Linked DNA regions of Homo sapiens: region 2 is linked to region 1. Evidence: fine-mapped expression QTL. A gene starts in region 1. The other region holds a variant in brackets. All regions are shown on one strand. Distances are from middle to middle.

What was found.
Region 2: its variant is fine-mapped to the expression of LRFN2 in whole blood (INTERVAL, PIP above 0.99).

Annotation. Positions count from the first base shown.
Region 1 is chr6:40,584,476-40,589,845 of GRCh38, reverse strand. It overlaps LRFN2 (leucine rich repeat and fibronectin type III domain containing 2), which reads left to right and starts at 2,482. Exons shown (of 3, transcript NM_020737.3): 1 at 2,482-2,905. RefSeq lists silencers at 2,050-2,119, 2,210-2,309.
Region 2 is chr6:40,400,295-40,405,664 of GRCh38, reverse strand. All of the region lies in intron 2 of LRFN2 (leucine rich repeat and fibronectin type III domain containing 2), which reads left to right. Among named protein-coding and RNA genes, the nearest start is that of TDRG1, 25 kb to the right of the region's middle. The variant A/G (reference allele first, on the strand shown) is at 2,205.

The DNA of each region.
Region 1 (5,370 bases):
ATCCACCATCTTTCACCTTTTCATGATCCAAGTGTGGATTATCTTCTGGGGATTTTCATGGTAAACGGTGACTGTAGATTGGTGTTCTCTTGGCCTCTCAAGATGTATGTGGTCCCCATCCTGCTCCATCTGTCAAGGTTGCTTGGGGGTTCCCAGAGCTGGAAAGGCTCTTAGCAAATGCACAGTCCAAACCCTTTGAGGAAAAGGGACTTGTCACATTGCTTGTTAATACAAAGCCATGGTGAGCATCCAGGCCACCTGTGCCCCAGCACAGTACTCAGGTTATGTTGGGGCAAATGTAATTAGAAAAATAAACCAGTAATTCTCAGAATTACCAATGACCCAGGTCTTGGCTCTTCATGGAATATCCATGTTTCTGACTTGAGAAAACTTCTTGATGGAGTATTGGGTTCACTCTAGAGCAGAGATTGATCCATCCTTCCTATATCCCTCATTCACATCATTCTAATGCTTTTCTGGTTTCTAAAAGCAGCTCCATTTCTACTCTGGTGCCAGCTTGGTCCTATCCCTGCCACTCCGTTCTGGTTGTCTCATGGGTGACTGAGGGTTAGGGGAGATAACCTAGCCCACTGCCCCCAACCCTTGGGAGAATTCAAAGGCTTGAGCCCAGGCTGTGGTTCTTCCTAAGCCTTTCTTCCTGGGAGCTCCCGCCAATAGTAGGCAAGCCCTCAGGTAAGCAAAGAGTAAGGCAGTTTCCCTGCTGTTCTCCCCTCCTTCTTCCCTTCCCCTTCCTCTTCCCTACTTGCCCTCCCCAGTTTCTACTCCACACCTCCTTTTACTCACCTCTTCCTTCCTCATTACTTTCCTTCTCATGACTCTTCCCTACCTCTATCCCTCACTCCCTGCTCCTGAGTTAGATCCCTTCTCTCCAAGGCCCACCCCATATACCTTGAGTTTCATCTTGGCCATGCCCCTCCCCCACCAGGCTTTCCAGAATTCCTGCAGGGAGAGGCTTGTCTTCAAGGATATGCAGCATGCCAGTTTGGCAGTTTCCCGGGGTGCACATGTGGAGGGTGCACACATGAGGACCAGCTGCCTCGGCTTCTGCAGTTATGCATGTGTGTAGAGAGGACACAGGGTCGTATGTTACAGATGTATCCAGCCGAGCCAATCCTGGGCTGCAGAGACACATCCACATGCAACATGTGCCTCCCTGTGGGTAACCGGGACAGGTGCACGGGATGTGTTAGCCACCAGGAGAGAAGAGAAGGACTGCAACATTGACATTCTTCCTGCCCCTGGATTTACCAGCTGGAGTACCAACAGGAATCTCAAAATTTCATTTCCTTTAGAAGGAAGGAAATGCCTCTTGGGGAGTCCAGTAAGGCAGAGGACGGTCCTACCTTTCTGGTAACTAGTTGTTTATAGTGAACCGAGAGGATAACCAAAGACGAGACCTTGGCCAGACCTGGGTGTTCTGACTGTGAGCTCACAGTCTGCTTTGAGTAGGGTCTCCGCTACCTACCACATGCCTTGGACAAGTCACTTTACTCTTTTGGGCCTCAGTTTCCTTATACATCAAATGAGGGTTGCTGAGAAGATCAAACAAGTGAAGAGTTGTAAAGATGCTGTGCAAACACTTGGCGCCACTGCACCCTTCACTGATTCTTGTAATAATCATGAAAAGTCAAAGTGCGTGTGTGTGCGTGCACGGGGCGCTCGTTATTCATAGGTCCCTTACCAGGATTCGAGAATCTGAACTGGGCCCCAGGACTGGGTGGGCGCGATCGCCCCAGCCCCCACTCCCAGCCTAGGGCCGGCGCGGTCGGGTTTTCCTCCAGCAGGCGGCGGGCTGACGGCTGCAGGGCGCGCTAGGCACGTGAGGTGGCAGCGCCGTCGCCAGCTGCAGAGGTGCAGCCCTGGCCGCCCGGCTCGCCTTCCGCAGGGGCTGCCCGTGCCGCTGGACCGCGGAGACCGCCCTCCCGGTTCCGGGGCTCGCGGCCTGCCCACCTCCCTCCGCGACTGCGGCCCCAGCCCACTCCCGCCCCACCGTGCGTCCCCGCGCCACCCCTGCCAGGACCGTGAATCCCTCTGGTTTCCGCGGCGGTGTTGGTCGTCTCGGAAGCGGGTGCGCTCGGCAGCGGGCAGGGCAGCGGGCGCAGAGGCTGCCTTCGGCTCCTGCAGCTCCGCGGTTCGCCACTGGGGGCTGCCGCGCCGGAGAGCTCGGCGGGGACGGTGCGCACGGCCGCCGGGTTCCTGGGCGCCTCTGGCCGCTGGGTTTTCTCCACTGCTGGCCCTGCGCTGTCTCCGCAGCCCGCCCGACTCCCTCCCAGATTGGAGCGTGTGATCCGTGTGTGTGTGTGTGTGCGTGTGTGTGTGTGTGTGTGTGTGGAGCGGAGAGAGAAACCGGGTACGCGCGTATGCGCGCGCGCGTGGGGGGCAGTGTGCATGCGGGGAGTACGGGGGAGTGTGTTTGTGTGTGCGTGTGGGTGTGAGTGCCTGGCTCCCTCTCGCTGAGACACACATACACTCACACATACACAACCCGGCAGGCTCGTCTGAACTTGAAGACACCCCACATTCCAAGATGCCCGAGGTTCCTGGGAATGCCTGGGGTTCTTCGATCCGGAAAATCCTACCGGCATCCTCCTAGGGAGGGATTATTATTATTATTTTTCTTTAATCTGGAAGAGAAGAGAACAAGTTGTGCTTTTCCCCCCTTCTTCTTGCTAAATGCCATGGATATAACTGAATAAGCGGCTCAGGGCTTTCCCCGCGTGGACGTCCGAGGCCACCATCTGCCTGCATTCGCCGGAGCCGCCGGAGGGTTTAGCTCGAGTCTGTCTCGGGCGGGGAAGGATGCGTGGCCGAGCCGGGGAGCCCGGGCGCCCCGCGGAGCCGGCCTCGGTGCCACCCAGCCGGGGGTAGATGCTGCCTCGCCCAGGTGAGTGGTCGCCGGCGCTGCGTCTTTGCGATCCCGGGTGTCCGCGGGAGCTCGGCGCGGGGCTGAACGCACCCGAGGGAACCGGGAACTTTGCATCCCTTTCTTTTTCTCTTGAAGACTCCCCGCATCCTAGGTGCTCATGCGGACACCCCCTTCTCTTTTCGCCCATCCTTATCGCGAGAGATTTCCTTTCCTTTCTTTAGTCTTTATTTCCTACAGTGGGGGTGAAACTCTGGCGGGGAGCGGGGAGAGCCGGGTCCATGTGAGACTGGAGAGCCGGATGGAGAGACGGGGAGCCACGGGTGGATGGAACCGTTGAAAACAGCAGGAGAACTTTGCCGCCAGACCACTCTGTTGCATCTCCGCACATGCAAGGCCTGGCTAGAGCCATTGCTGGGGGCTAGGTGGGGGCGCCGGGGACTCCCTGAGCTCTGTGGACTGGGTGGGGTGGGGTAAAGCCAAGTGCGGAAGGGTTGATGCAGAGCGGATGGGAGGAAGGAAGGCATGGTTGCAGTTTGTGGGGGCAGGTAGGGCAGGTTCAGGGACCCTATGCTGGCCTCAGGCAGAAAGCAGATCAGGGGGATTGTGTGTGTGTGCAGCTTGGGGCATCAGAATGGCATGATGAAGCAATATGGAAAGTGGCATTAGCCATGCCTGGGTTCCTAGGTCTCTGTCTCCCACCCAGCCCTGCCCTGGTTCTAAGGTTGGCCTGGGCAGGGAGGAGGGAGAGCAGTAGACCGTTCCGAGGTGGACAGTGCCTTACTTTGCACAGACCTTCTGAGGGAGGTGTCCTACTCGTCTTCCCATCAGCCCGGTACAAAGGACAGAGACAGAGAGTTCTAGGGAGATAGAGCCTCTGAAAACCAGAGCAGGAGGGAGAAGAGAGCCTGAGTGGAGACCGCAGAGGGACTGAGCCAGACTGTTGCCAAATGCACCCGGCGACAGCAGACAGCTGCAGACGGACAGACACCTGCAGGGACAGGGAACATGTCAGAGCCTGCACTCTTGAGTTGGAGTTACAGGCATGGCTATAGATGATGACCCCCTCCCCTGGCCACAATGGAGTGTGTGTGTGTGTGTGTGTGTGTACGCGTGTGTGTGTGTACGCATGTGTATGTTTCAGGGAGGTGGCAGCTGTGGCCTCCATGGCCTGATTGGCCTTCTAGTACTGGGGGAGGGGGAAGCTTCAGGAATTTGACCCCCTGCTGCTGGGGAGGAGCAAAGCTAGGGAGGAAACTGCCATTCCCTGGGCTGTGAAGTTCCCAGGGGCCAGGGCTAGAGGTTCTATGTGGGCTGTTATTCTTGTGTGGGGGCCGATTTGGAACTCAAGGTGGGGAGCAAGGGAACTAGGTCTTGGGGTTGTGCCCTGGTCTGGTCGCTGCCCTCTGGCAGGAGCTTTATATAGCCACACACAGCAGAGCCCTGAGGGTAGTGTCATTTCCTTGTGGGGTACATCAGAGGCTGAAGGGGGTCAGAGTCCTGTAGGGAGGATTCAGAAGCTCCAAAAGGCCTGCACTTGGAGCCGTCATCCTCCGCCGACCATGCCAGCTGCCTGGGCCCTTCTGCTGATGCTGGAATGTCATCTTTCCCTTCTGACTCTGGCTGGGAGTGCAGAGTTGCATCTCCCTCTGGCCTCCTCACATGCTTCTGCTCAGGCCCCCTGCCCAGCCCTCAATTTAGAGTTTCTGGTCTAATTCCTGACCAGGAATGTAATTATTTATCTTCCTGCCCTCATCCTGGGGATGCAAACAGCAAACTTGGCATTTCTGTTTCAGCCTCTGGAAGGTTGGCTCCCAGTTCCATCTCCTGTCTAGAAGAACTGGGTGCCTGCCTGCTGTGGGCTGGAGGCTGGGGTTCAGGGCTCCTTCTTCTGTGAAGTGCCAGTTCTTTGCTCAGGCCCAGAAACGTGAGAAGCTGGGGAGTCTGGCCTGAGAGAGGGTGAGCTGGGAGCTTCCAGGAGGTGAGGCTGAGGAGGAGAAGCAAGATAGATGGGAAGAAAATGCAGTCAGAGTGGGTGGGGCCACCGGGGAAACCAGGCAGCCTTCTGGCCAACTGAGTCCTTCTTTGACTGAAGGAGGAATTGCTCTTCTTATCTTTGCTTCAGCTCCAAAGGAAAAAAAAAAAACAGGGATTCTGGCCTCCAAGTGCCAGTTTGCCAAGCCTCTTCAGCCTGTGGGGTTGAGCAGGTTCTGCTCTCCTTTTTTGCAGGGTGGATGTATAGAGGCTTATAAGCTCCTGGCGTGGGGTCTGTCTACCCAGGGACAGTGGAGAAGTGAAATTGGAATTAATTGTTTTCAGAAACTCCCCTTTCCTAAGGTAGATATTAGCATCTAGGGAGTTCACAGTCTGATGGGGGAGGCTGCTAGACTGGAAGCAGAGACATATAGCAATAAACAACCTGGGATGGCCAAGTGGAATTGGACTCTGAACAAGAGCAACAACAATTTGAGTATTTTGTGATTTTC
Region 2 (5,370 bases), 180 kb after region 1:
GGGTCAGGCACTGCCCGAGTCTCCTAGTTTCTAGCCTGCATGAGGTTTGCCAGCCACAAATCCCTGAGGCCTGGATTTCCACCATCAGAGAGGCATTTCCTTGGGGTTACATGGGTTAAGCATGGCCCACTCCTTTATGTAACAGACCCTCATGCGGGGCTTACTCTGTGCCGGGCACTGACCTAGGTACTTTATGAATCATGACTCCTTGAATCCTCATAACAACCCTATAAGGCAGAGATTATGAACGCCCCATTTTACAGAAAGGGGATATTTCTAGGAAGCAAACACAGAGAGATTAAGAAACTTGCCCAAGATAAGGTATTACAGCTGGTATGTGCAAAACCAGGATTGGAACCCTACAGTCTGACTCCAGAGCCTGTGTGCATATCCACTGTACCCTGCTGCCTCTTCAGCTTCTCTTGCTAATGGCAGGTATTCCGATGACATCTATCATTGTTATTGGATCTATGAGGGATTTTTCTCAATAGAAATGTGTCAGATGTGTAATGGGTAGCTGGGTAGCTTGAACATGAGAGGCAGAAAAGCAGGAACCAGAATATCGAAACAAAGGACCAGAGGGGGCCCAAAGACACAGGCTGGCTAAGGGCTGGCCCTATTTGAGGACTGTGGGGAAGGCAAGGCAGCTTTGCCAGTGGGGCCAAGCCTTGGGAAGGGGCTGGGGCACAGGCTGAGTATGGGAGGCAGAGAGAACACTCCAGTGGGCAGATAAGCTTGAGCTAGGCCTGAGAGAATCCCAGAGAGGGCACGCTGAACCCAGAGGTCTTAGGAACCATGGAGAACTGGAAGAGTCATAAAGGAGGGATGAAGTTGTCCAGAGCCTCAGAGAGAATGGGGAACTGCTCAGAGGTCTAGATCAAAGCCTCCAAGACAAATTCATCCCTTGTGTGAACTCCCCAAAGCTGGACAACATCACCTGGACTGGCCCACCTGTTTGGTGCATGAGGGCTCACATAGAAAATGACAGTGTTAATACCACTTGCTGGGTACATGGATAGGGCTGCATAGCATGTTCTAGAACAGCACCATCCAATAGCACTGCCTGTGTTGATGGAAATGTCACACAGTGGCACTGTCCAATCCAGTAGCCACTAGCCCCATGTGACTACTGAGCACTTGAAATCTGGCTGTTATGACTCAGAAACTAAATTTTTAATTCTAATCAATTATTATTAATTTGAAGTTAAATTTGAATGACCACATGCAGCTACTATATTGGGCAGTGCAGTGTAGAATATTCATTTCATTTGCAAGTTCAACCAATGTTTTCAACGGTCTGTGCTGTGCCAAGTATCATTCTAGGTGTTGGGAAACTATCAGTGAACAAAACAGGCAAAAAAAAACAAAAAACAAAAAACAAAAAAACAACCCAAACAAACTCTGACCTCAGGGAGCTGACATTCTAGTAGACAGAGAGAAAGACAATTAACAGTAATCATAATAAATCAATGATATTGTCTGTTGGGCAATAAAAATGCATTGGGGAAAAATGGAGTGGAGTAACAAGCCTGGGGAAGCCCGCAGTGTTGATAACGTGATCTGGGATGGCCTCGCTGAGAACGTGATATTGGAACAGGGACCTGAAAGAGGCAAAGCAGCTAGCATATAAATATCTGGAGGAAGAGCATCCAGGCAGAGGGAACAGCCAGTGCAAAAGTCCTGAGGCAGGATTCCCCTTGGCAGATTTGAGAAGCAGTGGGGAGCCCAGATTGTAGAGTAAGAATGGGGAGTAGAAGGAGACAAAACCCAAGAGGTGAGGGGCAGATTGTCTGGGGCCTGTGAGCCATGTGAGGACTTTGACTACATGAGGTGGGCTTCACTGGGAGCAGGAGCAGGGTTGAGCAGAGAAAGACAGGATGTGACCTGGGTTTTAACAGGATCCCTCTGACCACTTGCAGAGAAGAGGCTGGGGGATGGGAGCAAGGAAGGACACCCAGACCCAGAGGCCAACTCAACAGGGGCTGATGCCAACCCTGCCTGCTGTCTTGCGGGCTGTGGAAGTGGATGTCCGGGTACACCTGAGGATTGAGGCAATGATTGGGGTGCTTTGTCTCAGAGCCTCAATCATATTGAAAGGAAAGTGGCCCCTTCACTCACTGAGAGTCTAAAGTAACTGCCAGTAAGGCAGGGGTGCCTCAGGGCATTTGTGGAAGCTCCATATTCTCAGGAGCCACAAGGGCAGA[A/G]GAACAGGGACAGAGGCCAGCCCCCAACCCCAGGCCTCTGGTCCCTGGCCCCAACTGGAAGATCAGTCTTCTGATCCTTGGAGCCCTCACTGAATCCCACCAGCTCCATGATCGTCCCACTCTAAAGAGCAGACATGTGCTTCCCCCATTATCACTCAGGCCCTGGTGCTTAGGGAAGGCCAGCATTTGGCACTAGTCACCAGTAGGCTGTACAACTTGTACTGGTAATTCTGGTAATTCTAACTACTCTGATCTCTAGGCCAGAAACAGCAAGTATGAGACACCGGCTCCAGAGGACTCTGTCCCACTGAGTTTAAACACAGCCTCAGAATCCTTAACATTAGCACCCAGCAGCCAATCTCAGAGTTGGAACAAAGAGTGAACATACTTGCAAGAACCTGGCTCCTATCTACTACCTTGGTGACTTCATTTCCTACTACTCTCCCTTTCCATCTCTCTGTTCCAGCCTCACCGTCCTCCTCACTGTTTCTACCTCAAGGCCTTTGCACTGGCACCTCCTTCCTGCCTGGAAACTCTGCCCATGGATATCCACGTGGTTCCCTCACTTCCCTCAGAATTCCCAGGAGCATGCGTCCCGAAGTAGAGAGATTGTCCTCCTCATTCACTGGAGTCCCATTTCTGGCTCTAATTAGCTATGTGAGCCCAGGGCAGTTCAGTTAACCACTGCCTCTAAAACAGGTAGCACAATTATTAGATGTACTTCCCGGGGTTATCATGAACATGAATTGAGGAAATGTGAAAGTGCTGGGTTCAATCTTGGCTGAGCACAATCCTCCTCTCTGTGAGAGCTTAGTCAAGTCACCTAATGTCTTGGAACCTTGATTTTCTCATCCATAATGATAATAAGACTAGTACCTCCCTCACAGGATTTCCCAAGGTTAAATTAACTAATACATGGAAAATATTCAGAACAGTGTTTGACACATAGTAAGTGCTCAATAAATGTTAGCTATCATTGTAAAGTAAGGCATGTTATTTTTTTCTTTTTAAATTGCTGGCAAACAGTTGGCCTGACTCCAAGACTTGCCTCCTGCTAAATCCTGATTCTGCTCAATTCAATTCAATGTAATACAGCATAGGGAAGATCATGCTCCGTGGCCTGGCAGACCTGGCTCAGCCACTTTCCAGCTGTGTGAGCTTGAGCAGGGGTTCTATCTGCCTGAGCCTTAGTTTCTTCATCTGTAATAAGGGGATAATTATTCCTACCTCATACAGTCAGCATGCAGAATCAAAGAGACTCTGCCTGTCAAGTTCCTGGCACGTAGTAAGTACTCAATAAATTGTATGCAGGATGGAACAACACTCATCTCCTCTACTCCCTTGCAGCTCATGCATGAAAGCAAACAGGTCCCTTTGGGGCTCGCAGGAAGAGAGAGAATCTGGGAGTAAGGGCTGCTTGGCTTGGTTTAATGAGGCCATGTCATGTAGTCTGAGATCTCAAGGCTAACTAGAGAGGGTGGCAAGCCAGTGGTTCTGTGAAGAGCCAGTAATGAGGACACAGAGAGCCAGGGGTCGGGTAGGGGAAGCCTGATGTGGCCCTTCCAAATTAGTGCTGAGGCTCAACAGGCAGCCATGGTGCATCACTGATGGAGGGAGGAGAGGACAGAGCACCTAGAAAGGCGTGGTGCTAGTGGGGCAGAGGGGAGGCTGGAGGCTGGAGGAATTATGCAGATACAAGAGGTGGTATTTGTTGACAACTCCAGGAAGGCAAGGATTTCTTGTATAGACACCAGCACCAATGTCTTCCTCTTACACAAACACACATTCACCCTGTCTCTCACTCACATACCTACTAAATAGCAAATACTTCAGGCTCACTTCATCTAACCTGTGGGTGTCTGTTAGTCAGGGGAGGCAACTGCTGTTGCAAATAATTGCCATAATGTAAAGCCTCAAGCAGAATCAAATTTGATTTCTCACTTTCCTAACAGTCCAGAGCGGTGTGCCAGGTTATCAGGAGACCTTCCTTATGGGAGACTTAGGTACCCAGTACGTACCTCCCTCTAGGCCTTGTCATCCTGCCCAAGGGTCCAGCTGGCAGAAGGAAAAGGGAGTGTGGGGAAGGCACCCGAGCTACTGAAGACCTGGCCCAGAGATGGCACAGATCATCTGGCACAGATGACATCCTCCACATCCCTTTAGCCAGAAAGGGTCACATGGGCACACTAGCTGCAAGGGAGCCTGGAGAGTGTAGCCTAGACTGGAAGCCATGAGAGAGGGGGAGAGTGGGGTTTGGTAGTCATTCCACAGGCTCTTCCTGGAGGCTGAGGACCAGGTGGAAACTCCCACTCCATTCCCATTCCTATTCCTGAGGCCCAAATGCCTTTTCTGGGGGGTAAACTCTGTTCCATTAGAAAAGAGGAGCCTCAGCCTACAGAGAGAGGTCACATAGGAAGTCACCTCAGAAGTTTCAGAGGATGTGGGAGCCTCTGGGGGAGGTGGGGTTAGGGGGTTGGTTGAAAGAGGGGCAGAACAATGACTAACATTGCCTAGGACCAGGACCCCTTATTGCCACATACATGTAAACACCTACACTCTGGCACACACTCACAAATACCCACACATTCAGCTGACAAATGATACTTCTTAGACACACATCTTCTCACACACAGGCATACACACAATCACATACCCCAAACACATATGTATATGCACATCCATGAAAGGTTTTCAGGAGCCCTTGCAGTAAGCCTCAAGGATATAGAAAAACACCTCTCCAGGCCGGGTGTGTTGGCTCATGCCTGTAATCCCAGCACTTTAGGAGGCCAAGGTGGGTGGATCACTTGAGGTCAGGAGTTTGAGATCAGCCTGGCCAACATGGTGAAACCCCATCTCTACTAAAAATACAAAAATTAGCCAGGTATGGTGGTGCATGCCTGTAATCTCAGCTACTCAGGAGGCTGAGGCAGGAGAATTGCTTGAGCCTGGGAGGCAGAAGCTGCAGTGATCCAAGATCATGCCATTGCACTCCAGCCTGGGTGACAGACTAAGACTCCATCTCAAAAAAAAAAAAAAAAAGGAAAAGTACCTCTCCAGAAAGATGTCCTCAGAACCAGCCAGTGTCTGAGAGTCACCATTAACTAACCCTTGAATATTAGATAAGAATCCCTCACATATGTTTAGGCCCTAACATTTTGCAAAGCAC